Regions from separate parts of the Homo sapiens genome. Here regions 2 and 3 are each reported to be linked to region 1. The links are microRNA targets in miRTarBase. Many come from high-throughput screens and were not tested one by one. Region 1 holds a microRNA gene; each other region holds the end of a gene's coding sequence.
The links. The annotated mature microRNA hsa-miR-2276-3p reads UCUGCAAGUGUCAGAGGCGAGG and lies in region 1 at 955-976, shown strand. An mRNA with a match to its seed (bases 2 to 7 or 8) in the 3' UTR can be bound and repressed. Matches are read on the target gene's strand: a 7mer-m8 pairs with bases 2 to 8, a 7mer-A1 pairs with bases 2 to 7 and ends in A, and an 8mer does both.

Region 1 (3,346 bases):
CGGAGTTGGTTTGGTCCCATTCTGTGCAGGAGGTGGGGGAATTGGTACTCCAGCCCCAGGCAGGTAGAAGCCCGCGCTGCTGCCAGCGTCAGGGGGAGCTCGGGTGACTTGGGCTGGGCCACCCATCTGACTGCAAGGTTACAGAGCTTGAGCAAATTTCCCCTCCCTCCAAGTGCAGGAAAACCAAACCAAAGCAAGCAAACAAAACCCTGTGGGTCATTTGCTTCCCAGCATTGCATAGGGATGTGGATAAATAGAATAATACTGTGAATTTATTCAGCTCTTGTTCCCATGGCTTCCCATAGCCTTATATTATGCACCTCCCCCTGCCAGCATTTTCTCTGTCCCCACCTTCGGTTTTTGCTGCCTCGTGTTTTCTTCTCTGTGAACCTTTCCTGGTCACCCAGCGATTTGCTCTCCTTTATTCCCCTTGCTAACAGGCGGAGAAATCTCACTCCTTTTCTTTTTCCACCTTTCCCAACAAATTCTCCTTTTTTCCTAATGTCCCCCTCCCCCGTCTTGCAAACTTCCTCACTGCATTATTCTCGGGGTGCCTGTCATGCACCCTCCCTGTTCTCTGCCCTCCTCCCGCACTTTAGAGTTTCATGTGGCTTTGTCTTATTATCCCATATCCTAATTCTCATCTACCTCCCTTGGCCCCCACGTTTGCCATCTGCCTCCACCCAGTTCTCCCATCTCCTTCCTTATTTGTGCTCCCGTGCATATGCAGGTTTCTTCCTTGTTTCCCCATGTTTCTCCCACAGGTGCTTTCTTCCCTTTGCCCTACTTCTCCCTGGCAGGCGCTCTGCCCAGCCACAGCCTGCCCCGCCTGGAGGGCACACCTTGCCTCAGTGCCTTCTGCTGCGGTTTTCCATGCTCCATCAGCATCCCTGGGTTCCTTGTGTTCTTCCAGTCCGCCCTCTGTCACCTTGCAGACGGCTTTCTCTCCGAATGTCTGCAAGTGTCAGAGGCGAGGAGTGGCAGCTGCATCTCTGCAGGAGGACTCTGGATTTCAGGACCCTCCCTTCTGCCACTGCTTCTGACTGATTGTTTTCTTATTGAAGTCGTATCCTCTACATAGTTCTAGAATTAATGTCAATATTGATGTTAGGTAGCATCTACCAAACTCTGGGTGTGTGCCAAGCACTGTTCTGAGGGCTTAACGTGCATCAGTACTCATTTAAAATCCTCCACACATCCCTATAATGTAGGATCTACTACTGTCCCCATTTGACAGATGAGAAAAGGAAGGCTCAGAGGAGGTAACCGGCATGGCTTCTTGCCACTGCCTAGCAGTGGAGGCCCTCTTCTCACCAGACAGTGGAGCTTCCCTGCTGGGTGACCTCTTGAACTCAGGCATGCCTGGAGTTTAGCTTTGGAAAGGAGGTTGTTATATGACATGTTTTATTTAGTCTGCAATGTACACCAGTGGAGGACATGAATTCTATACCTGTAGGACAGTGCATGGAGAAAAACCTAATGCCGGCTGTCCCTCAGAAAGCCTGGGGCCAGTGCCTGGGCTGTCACCTCATCCATGCTATCAGTCTACTTTCCCTCTTAGCCACAGGAAGCCCTGAAGAAAGTGGCATAAAAATGACCTGGCTGGGCACAGTGGCTCATGCCTGTAATCCCAGCACTTTGGGAGGCCGAGGTAGGAGGATTGCTTGAGCCCAGGAGTTCAAGACCAGCTTAGGCAGCATAGCAAGACCCCATCTCTAAAAAATAAAAATAAGAAATCAGCTGGTTGTGATGGCGCACTCACCTGTAGTCCAAGGTGCTCAGGAGGCTGAGGTGAGAGGATCTCTTGAGCCTGGGAGGTTGAGACTGCAGTGAGCTATGATTTTGCCACTACACTGCAGCCTGGGTGACAGAACGAGAGACTCTGTCTCTAAAAAAATTAAGTTAAATTAAAAAAGAAGACTACTGCCAGCTGTCTCCTCCCGTGCATTGAGAGTTCCGTTTCACTTTAGCTGGACAGATCTTTATGGTCTCTGTTAGCTGTGTGACTGTATGAGTCTTATTTATATCCATTTCATTATGTAATCTTAAAGCCTTGTCCAAACATTTCTTTTTTAGTCTTTATCTTCCTAAGAGTTGGAGGCAAGTAGTATTTCTACTTTACAGATACTGAAGCAGAGCATGCACCTTGATAGCTGAAAGGGACTTTATATTCTACAGATGAGGAAACCGTGGTCCAGGGAAATAAAATGGCATATTCAAGGGAAAGCAGCAGGACAAAGTTGGCTCTAAGGCTTCTCTGGTTCAGGGCTCAATGCCTGGCCCTATAGCTTGGTAGGTTGACCTCTCTGTTTGCTGCTGGAAGCAACAAAGTTTCTTTCCCCTTCCTTTCCCTTGAGCTAAGAGGCATTGGAAGGTTTCACTTAGAAGGGGAACTCATCAGTGCTTTCCTTTCTTTTTTGTCTGAAAACTAAACATTTAAGAAATGTTTGCCTATGAGACATGTAATAGCATAAATGGGATCATAACATCACAGTGGTATAAATTCAAATGTTTTAGAAAGAACTATCATTGTTATTTCTAAAACACCAGGAATGAACACCAAATGTACATGGTTTTCTTGAGGGAAACTATATAATACATGGCAATTTGAAAATCAGTACCTGGAATGTTTAATTGTATTTTACATTTGTGGAGAGAAATGCATTGGTACAAAGTGCTTACCTGATTTTCCTCATCTTTGCATCACAAATGAAAGAGCAGTAAAGGGGGAGCATAGAGTAGGTTGCTGTTTTTCTGTTGGCCTCTGCTGTACCCACATCCTTCTCTGGACTCCCACTGAGCCCCCTTGCTCCTGCCTCTGCTCCCTCCATGTTTAATGCCTCTTTTGGCTCCCCAGGGAACCTGCAGGGTATTGTTGAATTGTGATGCTCACCTCCTCCATACCAGCCTGTCTTGACAGAATGAAACCCTGATGCCCTGAGGCAGGCATCCTATGTGATGGCTTCATCACTCCCTCCTAGGATGAGATGGGTGATCAGGTACCATCCTGGGGAGAAGGGAGGAAGCATTTGCGTGAGGTATCCTCTGTGTTCTGTGGTTTAGGTGAGGATGGTTATAACTGAGGAGCAAGTCAAGTTTCATTGCTCCCTAAATGAGATGGAGGTTCAGGGAAGCTGTCGTGGCCAGAGCCCCATAGTAAGTGGCAAGACTGAGACTGGACCCCGGGCTGCCTGGCTTAGGAGATCCACCTGCATCCCTCGGTGTGTCTGTCTTCCCTCTAACCTGTAACTCCCTGAGGCAGAAACGGCACCACAGAACCTTTCACAACATCGATAGCTCCTGTGTGCTGAGCTGAAGGTGAAGCTGGAGAGGAGAGACCAGGGGA
Region 2 (3,346 bases), not on the chromosome of region 1:
CGCCTGCCCGCCCTGCACAGGCTCCTGGGCCCACAGCGCGTATTTGATCTGCAGCAGAACCTGGGCAGCGTCAATGTGAGCACGGGCTGTGCACCCGCCCTGCAAGCCCAGACCCCGGGCCTGGGGCCTAGAGGACTGCAGGCCACCGCCCGGAAGGTGGGCACCCCAGGGGTGAGCAGGCAGAGCTGGGGTGGCTGGAAGGGTGGCCCCTGTGTGGGCGGCCCCTGCATTCACCATCCACGCCCCCAGGCCTCCCGCCGCAGCCGTCAGCCCGCCCGGCATCCTGCCTGCATGCTGCCCCCACACCTCAGGACCACCCGAGACTCCTACCAGTTTGGGGGTTCCCTGTCCAGTCACCTGGAGTTTGTGGGCATCCTGGCCCGACATAGGAACTGGTAAGGCCAGGCCCGGCTGGGGTGGGCTGAGAGGGGCCGCGCAGGCTGACGCCAGCTCCGCTTCCAGGCCCAGTCTCTCCATGCACGTCCTCCCGCGAAGCTCCCGAGGCCTCCTCCTCTTCACTGCCCGTCTGAGGCCCGGCAGCCCCTCCCTGGCGCTCTTCCTGAGCAATGGCCACTTCGTTGCACAGATGGAAGGCCTCGGGACTCGGCTCCGCGCCCAGAGCCGCCAGCGCTCCCGGCCTGGCCGCTGGCACAAGGTGAGGGCCGAGAAGAAGGAAGGTGGTGGGCAGGGCCTGGCAGCCCTACCCTGACCCATCTCCTGCCCCCAGGTCTCCGTGCGCTGGGAGAAGAACCGGATCCTGCTGGTGACGGACGGGGCCCGGGCCTGGAGCCAGGAGGGGCCGCACCGGCAGCACCAGGGGGCAGAGCACCCCCAGCCCCACACCCTCTTTGTGGGCGGCCTCCCGGCCAGCAGCCACAGCTCCAAACTTCCGGTGAGAACCATCTTGCCCCAGCCCCCACTCCCCACCCACTGTTCCCTTTCAGCTGCCCTGGGCCCTGATCCCTGCCCGGTCTGCTCCTATAGGTGACCGTCGGGTTCAGCGGCTGTGTGAAGAGACTGAGGCTGCACGGGAGGCCCCTGGGGGCCCCCACACGGATGGCAGGGGTCACACCCTGCATCTTGGGCCCCCTGGAGGCGGGCCTGTTCTTCCCAGGCAGCGGGGGAGTTATCACTTTAGGTCTGTGGGTGCTGGCATCCCAGGCCTCAGCAGGGCAGGGCAGGGGGCTCCAGGAGGTTCTGGGGAGGGGCCCCCCCTTTCTTCTCCATCACAACCCCTCCCCGCAGACCTCCCAGGAGCTACACTGCCTGATGTGGGCCTGGAACTGGAGGTGCGGCCCCTGGCAGTCACCGGACTGATCTTCCACTTGGGCCAGGCCCGGACGCCCCCCTACTTGCAGTTGCAGGTGACCGAGAAGCAAGTAAGCCTGGCAGAGGTGGCGTGCCAGGGCAGGGTTTGCCTCCCCATTCTGGTGACCTCGGGGGCATAGCCTGACCCTCCCTTCCTACCCCGCCAGGTCCTGCTGCGGGCGGATGACGGAGCAGGGGAGTTCTCCACGTCAGTGACCCGCCCCTCAGTGCTGTGTGATGGCCAGTGGCACCGGCTAGCGGGTGAGGCCCCTCCTGTGGCCAGGGCACTCTGCCACCCCCACCCTTCTGCAGAGCGGGAGCCAGGCGGGACTCTGGGTGGGGTGGCTTCTTTTGGGGCTGGAGAGAGGCTGGGCTGAGGACCACCTGGCCTCAGGAGTCCCCCTTTCTCCCAGTGATGAAAAGCGGGAATGTGCTCCGGCTGGAGGTGGACGCGCAGAGCAACCACACCGTGGGCCCCTTGCTGGCGGCTGCAGCTGGTGCCCCAGCCCCTCTGTACCTCGGGGGCCTGCCTGGTGAGTGCGGCCTTGATCAAGGGTGGGGGAGCTGCCCCTCAGGACTAGGTGCTGCGTAACCTACCACCCTCCCCCCACCCCTCCACCCCCTGCCCCCTCCCACCCTCCTCCCACCCCCCTACCACCCTCCTATGATGTGGAATGAGACAGGGGCTGGGTGGGGCACTGACGTTTGGGAAGGGCCTGTGGGTCTCTAGCTGCCCACCAACCAGCCTTCTTCCATCTTCCCTGTGCCCCCAGAGCCCATGGCCGTGCAGCCCTGGCCCCCCGCCTACTGCGGCTGCATGAGGAGGCTGGCGGTGAACCGGTCCCCCGTCGCCATGACTCGCTCTGTGGAGGTCCACGGGGCAGTGGGGGCCAGTGGCTGCCCAGCCGCCTAGGACACAGCCAACCCCGGCCCCTGGTCAGGCCCCTGCAGCTGCCTCACACCGCCCCTTGTGCTCGCCTCATAGGTGTCTATTTGGACTCTAAGCTCTACGGGTGACAGATCTTGTTTCTGAAGATGGTTTAAGTTATAGCTTCTTAAACGAAAGAATAAAATACTGCAAAATGTTTTTATATTTGGCCCTTCCACCCATTTTTAATTGTGAGAGATTTGTCACCAATCATCACTGGTTCCTCCTTAAAAATTAAAAAGTAACTTCTGTGTAACCGAATGAATGTTGACTTAAATACGGAGAGAGTGAGTCTCAAGACAGATCTGGAACCGGCCTGGACAGAGGCACCAAACTCTTCCTGGGGTGACCGTTTTCCGTTGTTAGGTCAAATAACTAACTGTCTCTGGGACCCTACAGCAGCTCCCCACGCTAGCACCTGTCCAGCCGAAACTCCCTTTGGGCAAAGAAACTAAGCATTGGCAGGTAAAAGAAAAGACTTTATTAATAATCAGTGGGTGGGAGGTGAGGGTGTGCAACGCACTGCAAGCGCCCAGTTCCTCGGAGGACGGCGCGTGGCTCAGTCCAGGCTCATGTCCTCCTCTTCGTCCTTCTTGTCCTTCGTGTCGCCCTCTTTCTGCTCGGGCTTGGCGTTGTTCTGCATGGCTTTGGCAAACGCTTCCACATCTAGAACACGTTAAAGACACAAGGTGGTGTCTAACCCTTGCCCAGAACTGGGGATCAAAGCGATGGGATCAAGGGCAGAAGGGCTGTGACCTTTACCCCCTCAGCCCCACTTCTGCAGATCCAGGGGGACAGGAATGGACCCTGCCCCTGGCTCTGGCCTGGAGGTGCAGGCGCAGCCACTTACCGCCCTTGTTGGCGGCCTCCACAGCCTCTGCAGGCAGACCGAACTGGCACATGAGGGGGCCCAGCTGCCCCGAGGCCAAGGCTGCGCTGAACATGCCCAGGGCCTGCAAGAAGAGCCAGGCGAGGGCTGAGCTCCAACCCGGGCTGCACCCCAGAGCCACACTGCTCAGCTGCCAGCTCTGCGGGTCAGGCACATGAAGCACTGGCCATGGTGAAGGTGGGGCAGGGCCTCCTCCTCCCCCCTGCCCACTCCCTGAGCAC
Region 3 (3,000 bases), not on the chromosome of region 1:
TATAATTAGAGCTAAGGTCGGGGCGGTGATGTAGAGGGTAATGGTTGATGATATAATTATCAAGACTCAATAATCAAATAATTTTAATCATGAATTAAAATCATGAATTAAAATCATGAACTTATTAGCCTAGCATTTGAGAGCTTTTTCTTAAAAAAATTAAAAATCTCATTATTCACAATCACCCTCCTAATTAACCTTATTCTATATGACATATACTCTAATATTATTGGCCCTGTGGAGCTTGGGCACCTTCTAATGCACTGTGGAAGCATTCTACTTGGATTATACCTGTATATCAACAGTTGTTCTCATACCTGTATATTCAACATGGACTCTCTAACAGAAACAGGTCCTTTTGTTTTGTACATTGCAGTGTAATAAATTGCCCCTGTACTCTTGAATCTTGATGAAAAGAGACTAACTTCCTCCCTGCCTTCCATGCTGGGTAGGTAAGTAGTTTCCCACAATGAATTAGACCCAATATCCTCCATGAAAGTAATAATAGTGGACATTCCTGCTCATGAAGACACATGTCTAGGGGCTTAAAACTTGAAGTGTAGATGTGAAGGTGTGTGTAAACATCACAGACAGATCCAGAAAGAAAGGAAGATGTTTATTGCTTTCCATACCTTGTGGAAGGACTAGATATCTCGCTGTCTTTTTGACCTCCTGTTTCCTTTATAGAACGCAAGGCATTTATGCATTTTGGACAATTCATTTAAATGCACATATTCAAGATAAGAACAGTATGTCTCCCTTTCTTTGCATATTTATGACACATTTTATTTGCACAAATAATACTGCATCAGTTTCATTGAGAAAAGTTGGAATTTTGTTATCAAAATCATTGGATGGGAAACTGCATTTTCAGAACCCACTTCTTTTCCTCTTTCACTAACGGTATTCCTTACAACTTGTAAACATTCATGAAGAACTCTATCATTGTGATCCATTTTTAAACCAATGCACCCACTTGGAGTTATAATTTCCCCATAAAAACTTTCCATGCTGATCACTTTTTTTCCTTTAATACGCTTTGAGCATCAGGGCACACTGCTCCATCCATCGCAGGCGCTGCGGGTGGAGTTTCTATCTCAGTGCACAGCATGAAAGCTTGGGTCCATCTGTGCCACACAAAACCAAGCCTCTCTTGAAGTGATTTGTTTACAGTGTCATTTGATGGAGTGGAATGTTCTGCAACTCATTCGAACTGTTACAGAAGCTTTGCTAAAAGGTCACCACTGCTCTCTAGAATTTCCAAATCTGGGCACCCTCTGGGAGCTTGTTAAAGATAAGGTTCTCCATGGGCTTTTTCCATACAAACTAGATCAGATTAACAAGAGGCTACTTTTCCATAGAGGTTTGTGTTCATGTTGAGAAGGAGAGCAAGAAAGAGAGAACACAAGTAAATTACAGTTAGTTACCTCAAAGTGTGCAAGCCCACTTTCTCCCAATTCAGAGGGCATGTAACAAGTGATAGTACAATTTAATAGGCCTAAACAAGTGTGTTGGTCTTGAAAAAGTCAGAATTTGCTTTTAAATGTCCTTCTTGAATCAATGCATTCTTCAAATATAGTCTTGGGAGTCGATTCTAAAGGACACTGAATTTCACCATTTACTCAAAATTCAATAGGAAAATGACAACTAATTCCTTAAGGTAATAGAGGCTGTGCAGGGTAAGCATTCACCGTGCACTGCACCAACAAGGTTCAAATTGTTGTAACTACCATTTTAGTCTAGACCTAAAAGTGTCTTGTGCTTGCTTTCTGCCCCTTTTCTTATGAAACAAACATCTTGAATTTTCCAAACCTCAAAAGCTCAGCTGTAAAACTGTAGGAGACCAGCAAGAGGAAAAGGAAAATTTCCTTCAAAGACGTCTCTAGTCGCAGTTGATCAGTTCTGCTTTCCCCCTCGAAACATTAACTATGTCTTTTGACACTTGTCTGTGAAAAACGTCCAAATGTGACAAATGGTAGAAACAACATTTCTTTACCCTCCTGCCTGGAACTTCCCATGATACAGATGAGATCTAGCTGATGCTTTTATGAGTGGAACAAGGAAGGTGGCTACTGTCCACCACACTCACTTACATCTGCAGATGGAATAAGTAAACACATAGTGAACTTACTGAATAAAAATTTTAAATTCTCTCATTTGCATTTGGTTGGAATCCCTGAAAGGGTCTGCACAGTAGCAGCTAAAACACAGGCTTATTGCCATTAAAAATATTCTCAGAAGTGTGTGTGTGTGTGTGTGTGTATTTCTAGTAGAATACTTGGAAGAAGAGAGACTTAAATCTGGAATCATGTTTTTGTCTCTGCAGTCCAAGCTGGAGACATTAAAAACAACAACGTCTCCCTCAGTTCAATCAAGCTGGTCTGGGAACCAAAATTGTCCTGAGGAAGGGGGAGAAATCCATTTATATTCCTTGTGAGGCAAGGAGGGAGGTCTTTCTCGCAAAGTCTTTATGTGTCATTCAGGACCAGGAAACTTAATCTTCGAGTTCAAAGCTCGTCTCATCATAGAGCTCAGGACGTGCTGACTTCTTGTGCCGGGAATATTTCAGTTGCAAGAGATCACCCATTTCATCAAGAGCTTCTAAAACCTGCAATGAGATTGCTTTCCAATAGCTATCATTGAACACCTAAGTAGCCCTGCTTTGCAGAGCCCAGATTAATAGCAAGCCTCACAAAGACACACAGTCTTAGTTTGCTAGCTTCTTTGATTTTAAAGAAAAGAAGCAAGATCCGTACCATTAGGTTGTGGTTTAAGACCCTAGAGGAATGTTAGATGCTAATTAATTTTATTTAGTGGTCTAACTCCATACTATGAATGTTTATTTTATTTTGAGAGTGTGAAGAGAAGAATAAAAACATGTGACCCATGCTTACCCTTAAAAGGTTTTATTTTAAAATGTAGTGACTTATATGTAGTCTTGTGGAAGAAAAAGATAAGGTTGCAGAATGCATTTGAAGTTATATCTTCATGACACAGCAA

Region 2: the mRNA of ADRM1 is a reported target of hsa-miR-2276-3p. Seed matches in the 3' UTR shown: 7mer-m8 at 2,759-2,765.
Region 3: the mRNA of SPTLC3 is a reported target of hsa-miR-2276-3p. Seed matches in the 3' UTR shown: 7mer-A1 at 1,197-1,203.

Annotation. Positions count from the first base shown.
Region 1 is chr13:24,161,515-24,164,860 of GRCh38, forward strand. It overlaps MIR2276 (microRNA 2276), which reads left to right and starts at 902; the gene lies at 902-990. All of the region lies in intron 1 of SPATA13 (spermatogenesis associated 13), which reads left to right.
Region 2 is chr20:62,308,211-62,311,556 of GRCh38, reverse strand. ADRM1 (ADRM1 26S proteasome ubiquitin receptor) reads right to left here. Exons shown (of 10, transcript NM_007002.4): 9 at 3,087-3,189; 10 at 2,695-2,902. The coding sequence ends at 2,796. LAMA5 (laminin subunit alpha 5) reads left to right here. Exons shown (of 80, transcript NM_005560.6): 72 at 21-156; 73 at 250-395; 74 at 463-655; 75 at 728-892; 76 at 985-1,138; 77 at 1,246-1,379; 78 at 1,476-1,569; 79 at 1,722-1,841; 80 at 2,082-2,492. The coding sequence ends at 2,221. Among named protein-coding and RNA genes, the nearest start is that of ADRM1, 6.9 kb to the right of the region's middle.
Region 3 is chr20:13,164,362-13,167,361 of GRCh38, reverse strand. SPTLC3 (serine palmitoyltransferase long chain base subunit 3) reads right to left here. Exons shown (of 12, transcript NM_018327.4): 12 at 1-2,608. The coding sequence ends at 2,495. It also overlaps a transcript of TASP1 not described here. Among named protein-coding and RNA genes, the nearest start is that of ISM1, 55 kb to the left of the region's middle.